Regions from separate parts of the Homo sapiens genome. Here region 2 is linked to region 1. Evidence: fine-mapped expression QTL. Tissue or cell type: amygdala. Region 1 holds a variant in brackets; the other region holds the start of a gene. All regions are shown on one strand. Distances are from middle to middle.

Region 1 (5,187 bases):
CCAGCTTACTTTCTCCTGTCGCTTTTCTTCCTTGTACTCTTTATTGCCTCTGATCACTCCTTTCCCTTCCTCCAGCAGCTCCCGAAACAGGTCCACAGGGCCAGAACCTGGGGCTCCCGCCTCTGCTGCTTCAAGCTCAGGCAGTGAGTTCTGATGTCTGGCTTTCTTCCGTAGGAATTCTGTACGGGCCTGGGGAGAAAGTTATAGGCAGGACATTCAGAACCTAGAGGTAATTCAAGAACTGTGAGTCTGGTGCCCACCACAGAAAATGGCAGTCCAGGGTGCTGGGGTTATGAGAAAGGGAGCACTAGGCGCCTAAAAGAGGCACCTGTCCTAGCTGGGGGTGAGGGTAGGCAGATGAGGCAACGCCTGGGTTTTGTAAACTCCCTTTCAAATAGTAAACCACGGGTCATCAAGGATGTATGGGAGGAGGTCCCTGGCCTAAACCAAAGGGGTTCCTAACCTCAAGTGAGACAATTAAAACAGCCATAAAGGTATGCATTAGGCCAGACGATCTGAATTCTAGCCATGGCTCCAAGTGACTACCCCAAGTCTGCTGAAGCCCTGTCCCCTGCCTTCAGGACGCGGATTTCAAACAGCGCTCAGCAGCCTACTGAGATTCTAAAAACCTAGACTACCTCCCACCCACGGCGGAGGATCAGACTAGCTAAGGAAATGAAAGTTGGGTGTACACCAAACAGATTTAAAGAGCCATACGGAAAGCCCGTGTTTGTGTGTATGTGTCTAGGGGGCGGTGCACGAAAGGGCTCGCCCGATGGCGTGGAGCCTGGCTGTCCGCCTCTCCTTAAAATGTGCCTTCCCCTCACTGAAGCCATCTCACTTCGTGCAACAGAGATGACAGTGCCCCTCTAAGAACGAACAGTGCTTATTGGGGATTCCGCAAGTCAGGTGCACGGCATGTAGTTAGCATACAGTAGATGCTCAATAAATAGGCTGTGCAGGCAAACTAAAAAGTGATCCGAATTTCCTTGAACTGTCCAAGGGTTCACGGATTCATTAAATGTTAAGCTTCTCTTTTGTGCTAGACACTGTTCCAGCCATGTGAAATACATCAGTGGGGGAAAAACTAAGACGAGGGCGAGATCAAGGAAGGTTTCGTGGAAGTGGGCACAAGGTTTGCGGGGCAACGTCCTCGAAAGTGGGATCGGCGCCTGGTCCCGAATTTCACACGGGGCACATTGAGCCTGCGCAACGCCTCCGCTTCCGGCCCCCAACCGCGGCGCCTGCGCGCTGGGCCCCGGAGCGCCGCCCTGCCGGCTTCCGAGCTTACCTCTTGCTGAGCCAGCAGCACCCTCCGCTCACGCTCCTTCTCCTCCTCCCGGGCCTGGGCCTCGTCACGCCGCACGCGGGCGACATTGTCCTTGTTCCGGACGTGCCAGCTCTTCTTGGGCAAGATATTCATGGCGTCGTAGCTGTCCAGGGACTGGCACGCCCGCCTCTTTGCACTTCCGATTGGCGAGAGGATGCCCCCCTTTTTCTTGTCCCTACTTCGACCGCGGATTGGTTCCGAATTAGTTGGTACGGCCCCCTGGCCTGTAGCGACAGGTGATTGGCTGAGACGCCCTTTATCACAGCGAATGCTAGGCGTTCGGCTCGTGGTATCCCCTAGCAACCGCCTCTTGTCACAGATCTGAACCAATCATAAGTTGGCCCGCCCCTGATGCTACCAGATGCGGCCGTCGATTGGCCGACATGACCGACAAGTCTCCTTGCGGAAGAGCGCTCTGCACCGACAAACATGCCCGTACATTTGATTGGCTCCTGCCCCGCTGTAGCCCTGCCCCCACCTTCAGGACGCAGATTTCAAAGCGCGCTCAGCAACCTCGGCTGTATTTATTGATACAAGGAAGATCACCCGAGAGTCAGGGACGTGGCGGCGAGGGGCCCTGGAAATCTCCAGATACCAAAGCTGGAAGGGCGTGGAGTCTTCTCCAGTTCTCCTAGTTTACAGATGTTGTGACCTAGGCTTACAATGGGCCTGGGGTCTGAAAGCGGGACGTGGGCTGCGGGGGTCAAAGAGCCGGTTTGGTGGAGGTCAGCGCCACAGCGCGCCGTGCCAGGAAGACTTTATTCTGCGCCTCCTGGGGCAAAGAGAGGTGGAGGTGAGACAATCCTCTTCCCCAACCCCTTTCCATGTTCCCCAGGGGCCCTCTCAGGGACCCGCCTGGCTCACCGTCT[C/G]TCTCTGACGTTTGAGCTCAGAGATGAGGCGTCCGTAGGAGTTAGCCAGAGCCACAGTGTACGCCATCAGGATGCTGAAGGAGACAGGAACGGAAGCCACTCCTGACACGCTCTTCCATTATATCCAAACGTCTGGCTCCTTCGAAGCCAGGGATGTGGACGCCTAAGCCCCTCCTCGTCTGGGCTCAAGGAGTTCAGTCTCCCAGCCCCTCCGCCTTCAGATCCAGGAGTCCTACGTCCCGCCCACCTCCTCCTTCGGACCCAGCAGTCCAGGAGCCTAGGCCTCCTCCCTCAGACTCAGTACGTTGCCTGCTCCCACGCCCAAGCCTCTCCTCTCTTGGACGCAGGTGGTGGCCCCCAGATCACACGCATTCAAACCCAGACCCAGAAGTCTGGGCCGTCTCACCTGGAGATCAGCAGAAGGGGCACAGCAAAAGCCTGGGTCCCCAGGAAGAAGAGGAAATTCTGGGTGGTCTCAGGGAGGCTGGAAATAGACTCAGGGATCTGGGCCCAGATGGACGACTGCCCCCGGAATGGACCACACAGCTTAGAAGGCGGGATCCTGAAGTCAAGACAGGCTGGGCTCACATAGTGCCAGGAGTCTGAACACTGAATGGGGAGAGAGGGAGGGAGAGAGGCGGGAGCCTCTCGCACTTACAGGAAGATGCTGTAAAGCAGGGGAACGCTGGAGATGGCCAGACCCAGGAGAAGGACCAAGGGGAAAAAGAAATTCGCCGCGGAGGCCCGGAAGGTGCGGGCAGCCGGGGAGCAGGTGGAGAAGAGGGTAAGCTGGTGGGGGAAGGCACGGAGAAAAGGGCTCTGAAACACAAGAGTCTGTGCCTCCATTTTTTTTTTTTTTTTTTTTTGAGACAGAGTCTCGCTCTGTCGCCCAGGCTTTTTTTTTTGAGACAGAGTCTCGCTCTGTCGCCCAGGCTGGAGTGCAGTGGCTCTCACTGCAGCCTCCCCTCCCGGGTTCAAGCTATTCTCGTGTCTCAGCCTCCCGAGTAGCTGGGATTACAGGTGTGCACCACCACTCCCGGCTAATTTGTTTTGCTGTTGTTGTTGTTTGTTTGTTTTCTCTTTTTGAGACGGAGTCTCGCTCTGTCGCCCAGGCTGGAGTGCAGTGGCACGATCTTGGCTCACTTCGACCTTCACCTCCCTGGTTCAAGCAATTCCCCTGCCTCAGCCTCCTGAGTAGCTGGGATTACAGGCGCCTGCCACTAAGCCCGGCTAATTTTTTTTGTATTTTTAGTAGAGACGGGGTTTTGCCATGTTAGCCAGGCTGGTCTCAAACTCCTGACCTCAGGTGATCCACCCGCCTTAGTCTCCCGAAGTGCTGGGATTACAGGCGTGAGCCACTGCACCCGGCCTACCTGCCTCTCCTTTTTTCCGAACCAGGAGTCTGAGCCCCTTCCTCATCTAGGACCCCGGAGTCTGAGTCCCCAGATCCTCAGACATATAAGTCAGAATGCCCTAGACCCCTCCTCTCAGATGCAGTAGTCTGTCCTCCAACCCCCTCCTCTCTCAGGACCGAGTAATCCAGGCCCCCAGGATCTTCCTTGCCCTTGACCCAGGAGTGCGGGCCCCAATACCTCCTGCCTCAGACCCAAGGGTCCCCCCTACCCCTTACCTTCTTCAGGTAGAAAAGCAGCAGGAACTTGACCGTGTTAAGCAGGGGCAGTAAAGGGCAGAAAAAACTCCCCACCCAGACCACCGTCTGCGCGTAGATGAGCCCCAGCACCTCGTCGGGCACCTGGAACTCTTGGGTCCCCGCCAGACGACCCAGCGCCCCAGGACAGAGGCCACAGAGGAGCCTGAAGGACGGGGCGGGGCCGGGCCGGAGTCAGGGGAGTGGCGGCCTGGAGTTTCCACGCCTCCACCGCCCCGCCCGCCAATAGGAAGCATGCGTATTGGTGGTGGGGGGGGGGGGGGCGGGACTTTCAGGACTCCACGTGGAGGGGGTGTGTCCAGAGGGCGGGTCCTGAGGACTAGAAGGGACCCAGATGTCGCCGCCGTCGGGGCCAGAGGGAAGTAACCCACTAAAACAAGGGCGGGGAGCGGGGAGATCTGCGGACCTAGGGCAAGCAAAGGGAGCAGGCAGAGGCGGGAATGGTAAAAAGGTGCGCGGTGAAAAGAACAGCGCGATGGGGCACGGCCTCGTCCTAGAGGGGCGGGGCCACAGCAAGGGGCGGGGCTCTCACTTTCTAGGAAACTGGATGAGCAGCGCGACTGCCAAGACAGTCAGCAGATCAAAGAGCAGAAGTTTGTACATTTCCTGGCCCAGGACAGTCTCCCAGCACTGAAGAAGGAAGAAATATATCAGAAAGAACTCGGGACCCGGGCACCTGGAGGCCCACGCGTCCGAGTCTCCACATCGCAAGCCTATGAGACCCTGTCAATACTTTCTCTGGGGGTCCTCGTTTTTCAAACTTTCATACCCTTGGGAGAGTGTTCCAGCACCCCAAGCTCCCCTCTCCGCCCAAACCAAGAGTCTGGACCCACCCAGCTCCATCTTTCCTTCAGGGACCCAAGAGTCCCACGCACACCCATGCCGTTCTCACCGGAAGTTGTTTGTAATTGTAGCCACAGGTTTTGCAGTCCTCAGCCTCGGAGTCGCCCCCACAAGTGATCTGATTCCAGAGAGAGAAGAGCAGGACCACCAGGGAGGCGAGGCGAAGAAACACGGTCCTGAAGGGGGGAAGGCAGAGAATGGGCCCTGACCCGGTACCCACCATGTGGCAGTTCCCTTCTCAGTGGAACGCGCCCGCATTCAACCCATCTCACAGATGAAGCTGAGGCCCAGTGACAGAATCAGGATTTCTTTCTTTCTTTCTTTCTTTTTTTTTTTTTTTTTTTTGAGACAGGGTCTCACTCTGTCACCCGGACTGGAGTGCAGTGGCGCGATCTCAGCTCACTGCAACCTCCACCTCCCAGGCTCGAGCCATTCTCCTGCCTCAGCCTCCCGAGTAGCTGGGACTACAGAAGCCA
Region 2 (5,121 bases), 29 kb after region 1:
AGGGACCGAATGAGTATGATTGAAACAGTGGGAGAAGAGGCTCAGCCACATAGAAACACACACCAACAGAGAATGAGGTTAAGAGAAGCTTCGGGTGAAGACCCTGCAATCCTCCACTTTTTCTTTATTTCCGAGGTCCAGGGCTCAAGAAGAGAGAGGTGGATATGAATGAATATGAACGGTGGCCAGGCCAGCAGACACACTGTCCACCTCTCTCCATGACATGGATGTAGCGGACTGGGACAAACACACAGGGACCAGACGCAGAAGGCAGGGGAGAAAGAAAAGCAGATGAAGGCCGGATGCGGTGGCTCACGCCTGTAATCCCAGCACTTTGGAAGGCTGAGGTGGGCAGATCACAAGGTCAGGAGTTCGAGATCAGCCTGACCAACATGGAGAAACCCCAGCTCTATTAAAAATTCAAGATTAGCCAGGCATGGTGGAGCATGCCTGTAATCCCAGCTACTTGGGAGGCTGAGGCAAGAGAATCGCTTGAACCCGGGAGGTGGAGGTTGCAGTGAGCCAAGATCGTGCCACTGAACTGCAGCCTGGGCAACAGGAGCGAAACTCCATCTCAGAAAGAAAGAAAGAAAGAAAGAAAGAAAGAAAGAAAGAAAGAAAGAAAGAAAGACAAACAAACAAACATGAAACAGAGAAATGAGCTGATCAACAAGAGACAGCTAGACATGAGGCAGAAGCTGAAAAAGACTCAAAGAGGAAACAGGTTGCTTCCCCCTCTCCCCTCCTCTCCCTCTCCTCCCTCCACCAAATTCTCACCAGGGCTGGGCCTGAATGAGGGCCCAGGTCCCGAGGATGGTGACCAGAGAATGCAAAGTGTGGGGGCCACAGGTGAACAGGGTGAGCCCCAGGCCCACAGCGGCTGCTCCCCATCTCTTCAGCCCAGGACCTGCAGGGGGAAGGGACAGCATAAGCCTGGAACCTTCCAGAGGGTCCCCCCCCTTTATTTTCCACTGGGGAGGGAGCCTGACTCACCGGCTTTCTTAAAGAGGAAGCCGATGGGGATGGAGATAAGAAGAACCACTAGATACGTCCATTCTTCAGGCGACATGGTCTGGGGGAGGGGCAGAGATTCACAGTGAGAACCCAGGAATCCAGGCCCCCTGCCTCCTCCCTCTTCGAGGATCCAGGAACCCAGCCTTCTAGACCCCAGTTTTTGAGGATGATGGAGTATGAGCCTCAGCTCCTCTCCTTTGAGAACCTAGCAACCCAGACTCCAGCCCCTTCCTCCTTGGAGGAGACAGGAATCCACCCCCAGCCCCTCCTTTGAGCGCACAGGCCTCCAGCTCTCCTGTCCTTGGAGAACCCAGGAAAGTGTGGGGATCTCCCAGCACCCAAGCCCCTCCTTTGCGAACGCAGAAATCAAAGCTACTCCCCGCACCCATACTGGGGACCCAGATTTGAAGACGCCCCTCTTTTAAAAACCCAGAAACGGCACCCCTCCCGGACCCTTCCTCTTCGACAGCCCAGGAATCTAGACCTCCGAGCCCCCTCTTCCAGCGAGGATCCAGGAACCCAGACCCCCTCTTTGGATCCCCCATCCCCCGGCCCTTGTGAAACCAGATATCCGGACCCCCCAGCCCTTCTCCTTCGAGACCACCCAGAGGAGCCCGGGTCTCCAACCTGCACCTCCTTCGGAGCTCCACACCCCTCTCCTACTGAGAACCCGGGGATCGAACACCCTCCCCTCCCCAGGCCCAGGCCCAGGCCCAGCCCCAACCCGTCCCGCGCACCCCAGCGCATCCCCGGCAGAGCCACAGGCGGTTGCGCCAGCCCCGAGTTCCAACGCGCCTCCGGGGCCGCCCCGCACCCGCCAGCCCGCAGAGACCCTGCCGCCGTGTAACCTCGCCTCGCCACTGGGCGCCGCCACCCTGGCCCACCTGAGCTGCTCGCCGGGCAGGAGGCGGCCGAGCAGTCCCAGCCCGCTTGCCGCCGCAGCTCCGGCCACGCCTCCCCCGCCCAGCGCGCCCCCGCGCCGCCTGCTCCTTCTGGGCGCCCGCCGGGCTGCGCAGATCAGGCCGGGGAAGAAGCCACGGTCAGGGCCCCGGGCGGGCAGGGAAGAAGCCCCGGAGCAGAAGCCGAGAGCGCGAGTCGGCAACGGGATTCGAGTCCAGGTCCACACTGGGATCCGAGCTCCGAGTACGTGAAGGGGCGGGCCTTCGGGCTCGGAACAAGGAGGAGCCAAAAGCTTTGGACCCGAAGGGGAACAGACGGGCTCTGGAAAGGAGGCGGGGTCTGGAGCTCGGCGTGAGGAATGAGGCGGGGTCTCCCTTCGGGTTCCTTCGGGCACAATCGGGAGCTTGAGTTCTCCGGAAGCGGGGCCACAAACTTCGGCTCACTTCGGCAATAGTCGAGAACGGAGAGCTGAGGCCACTGTGGGCGGAGCCACATGTTTCGGCTTTCTTCGGAGGTAGTCGAGTCCTTAGGGTCACTGTTCCGATGTGGGCGGGGCCACAGACTCGGCCGGATGTGGGTGGGGCCACAAGCTTCGGTTTACTTCGTAGATAGTTGGGTACAAGTGACGCTAGGATGATAGGCGGAGTCAACAGGTTCGCCAGACACCCATGAGTATTTACAAGGGGGCGGGGCGAAAGCGACTTGCCCTCAAAGGGGCGGAACCCCGAGGGCCGGCGTGCGCCTACGGGACCGGGCCAGGATGACGATCCTCAAGTTCCCAAGTAGAGGAGAGGAAGCGGCAGAGGGAGGTGCGCTCAGTGGGGCGGAGCCAAGGTGGCCCCCGCGGGAGGAGGGCGGGGCTTCGGTCCTGCGAGGGGCGGGACCTGACTTCCCGCGGCGCTGATGGGGCGGGATGACGAAGTTGACGAGGGTGTCGGCATGAGGGGGTGGAGCAAGGAGCGCGTGGCGCGGTGCGCAGTGGGTGGCTCCACCTCGACTGCGAATTACTGTTTATGAGGTGACTCGCTGGTTCTATCGGTGGACAGTGGGACATTCTGAAGGGAGGCAAGGAGGCGGACTGAGCGCTCCCAATTGGGGTGAGCCCGCCCGAGCGGAGAGTGGACGGCGGGTGTCCAGGGGGCGGGGCTTTCGGCTGTGGGGTTCGGTCGTAGGGCGGGAACTCCCCAACTGGGGTGCGCTGGCGCTCGGAGGGGGCGGGGCCACAGGCCGCGAGGCTGCCGGGAGCCGATGACGCCCGAACGCCGAACCTATTGCGTCCGGGAGGAGGCGGGGCTACGGATTCGGCCGAGCCGAGAACACCCGAACGTCAAATTGCTGGCGTTCGAGAAGGGGGCGGGGCTGCGGATTCGGTGGAGCCGAGGACGCCCGAACGCCGAACTTCCTGTGCTCGGGAGGGGGCAGGGTTTTGTACTGTGGGAGTCTGAGAGCGAGGAGGTCCGAAAGCCGAATCACAGTCGTTCGGAAAGAGGAGGAGCGAAGGCTCGAGCGTCCGGAAGAGGGTGTGGCCTCGGCGGTGCCTTAGCCTCCAGAGCTTCTGACCGCTGACGGGAACACCCGAAGGGGGACGCCCACTTTGCAAGAGGGTGGTGCCAAAATGGACCTTTGTAAGGGGGCGTGTCGCCGCGCTTGCGGAGGTTTGTTTTTCACGCTCCAAGGCGCAATGGTAGGTACGGCAGTGCGGGCACAGAGCGGGTGCCGACCGCAGGGTCACAAGGGTAGAGCGGGACCCTGGGGGCTTGGCGAGGGGAGAGGGTCGGGGGCTTGTCTCCGGCGTCTCGTCTCCGGCGGCCGCGAGGCCTGGTGGGATCGCCCGGGGGCGGGGCCTGGCGCTCGGGCCCAGCAGGTGGTGAACGGCGGCTGAGCGAGGCCCCGCCCCCTGAGGCCTAGGGGCGGGGCTTCGCCGAGACCCCGGAGGCTTTGGGTGCGCTGCAGCGGTCCGCGGCGCGCAGCTGTTTCGGTAACTGCTTTGCCTCCCGGCTCCCGCAGGAGGATGCTGGTGGTGGAGGTGGCGAACGGCCGCTCCCTGGTGTGGGGAGCCGAGGCGGTGCAGGCCCTCCGGGAGCGCCTGGGTGTGGGGGGCCGCACGGTAGGCGCCCTGCCCCGCGGGCCCCGCCAGAACTCGCGCCTGGGCCTCCCGCTGCTGCTGATGCCCGAAGAGGCGCGGCTCTTGGCCGAGATCGGCGCCGTGACTCTGGTCAGCGCCCCGCGTCCAGACTCTCGGCACCACAGCCTGGTAAGGGGGCGGGGCTCGAACTCGGGTTCGGTGGGAGCGGGACCTGGGAGTCAAGTTTCCTGGCTTCTGAAGGGACCATAAGCTTGGAGGTTCCAGCGAAGTGTGCTTCTCAGGCCCTGACATCCTTCAAGCGCCAGCAAGAGGAGAGCTTCCAGGAGCAGAGCGCCTTGGCAGCTGAGGCCCGGGAGACCCGTCGTCAGGAGCTCCTGGAGAAGATTACGGAGGGCCAGGCTGCTAAGAAGCAGAAACTAGAACAGGCTTCAGGGGCCAGCTCAAGCCAGGAGGCCGGCTCGAGCCAGGCTGCCAAAGAGGATGAGACCAGTGATGGCCAGGCTTCGGGAGAGCAGGAGGAAGCTGGTGAGCATGGGAGGTGGAGTCCAGGGACCACGGGAAGGAGAGGAGAGATCTTTTAGGAATTTTAGCTGGGAATCCAGTGCCTGGGTCTCCCTGAGGGTGAGAAGACTTTACCCCTTGAATTTACCAAACTCTTCTCTGTACTCCCCACCAGGCCCCTCGTCTTCCCAAGCAGGACCCTCAAATGGGGTAGCCCCCTTGCCCAGATCTGCTCTCCTTGTCCAGCTGGCCACTGCCAGGCCTCGACCGGTCAAGGCCAGGCCCCTGGACTGGCGTGTCCAGTCTAAAGACTGGCCCCACGCCGGCCGCCCTGCCCACGAGCTGCGCTACAGTATCTACAGAGACCTGTGGGAGCGAGGCTTCTTCCTCAGTGCGGCTGGCAAGTTCGGAGGTGACTTCCTGGTCTATCCTGGTGAGTATGGGTTGGGGCCTCTGGTTGCTGTGCCTTTCCATACGATCCCAATGTATTCTGCGTTTTTCTTTTTTTTTTTTTTTGTCTTAATAGAGGTGGGGTCTCTTGTTGCTTAGGCTGGTCCCTATTCCTGGGCTCAAGCAATCCTTCCACCTCGGCCCCCCAAAGTGCTGGAATTATAGGCCCA

What was found. PIP is the estimated chance that this variant, and not a neighbour inherited with it, causes the effect.
Region 2: MBOAT7 starts here. The variant in region 1 is fine-mapped to the expression of MBOAT7 in amygdala (GTEx, PIP 0.99).

What each region holds. Positions count from the first base shown.
Region 1 is chr19:54,158,273-54,163,459 of GRCh38, forward strand. It overlaps LENG1 (leukocyte receptor cluster member 1), which reads right to left and starts at 1,449. Exons shown (of 4, transcript NM_024316.3): 1 at 1,292-1,449; 2 at 10-189. The coding sequence starts at 1,423. It overlaps TMC4 (transmembrane channel like 4), which reads right to left. Exons shown (of 15, transcript NM_144686.4): 9 at 4,761-4,887; 10 at 4,401-4,498; 11 at 3,830-4,013; 12 at 2,858-2,988; 13 at 2,606-2,761; 14 at 2,195-2,273; 15 at 1,836-2,102. The coding sequence ends at 2,034. RefSeq lists an enhancer at 782-1,451. The variant C/G (reference allele first, on the strand shown) is at 2,200.
Region 2 is chr19:54,187,440-54,192,560 of GRCh38, forward strand. MBOAT7 (membrane bound acylglycerophosphatidylinositol O-acyltransferase MBOAT7) reads right to left here and starts at 2,141. Exons shown (of 8, transcript NM_024298.5): 1 at 1,899-2,141; 2 at 994-1,072; 3 at 778-907. The coding sequence starts at 1,069. TSEN34 (tRNA splicing endonuclease subunit 34) reads left to right here and starts at 3,869. Exons shown (of 4, transcript NM_001077446.4): 1 at 3,869-4,168; 2 at 4,282-4,525; 3 at 4,677-4,934. The coding sequence starts at 3,926. RefSeq lists enhancers at 1,469-2,154, 2,155-2,836, 4,805-5,121 and a silencer at 3,759-3,960.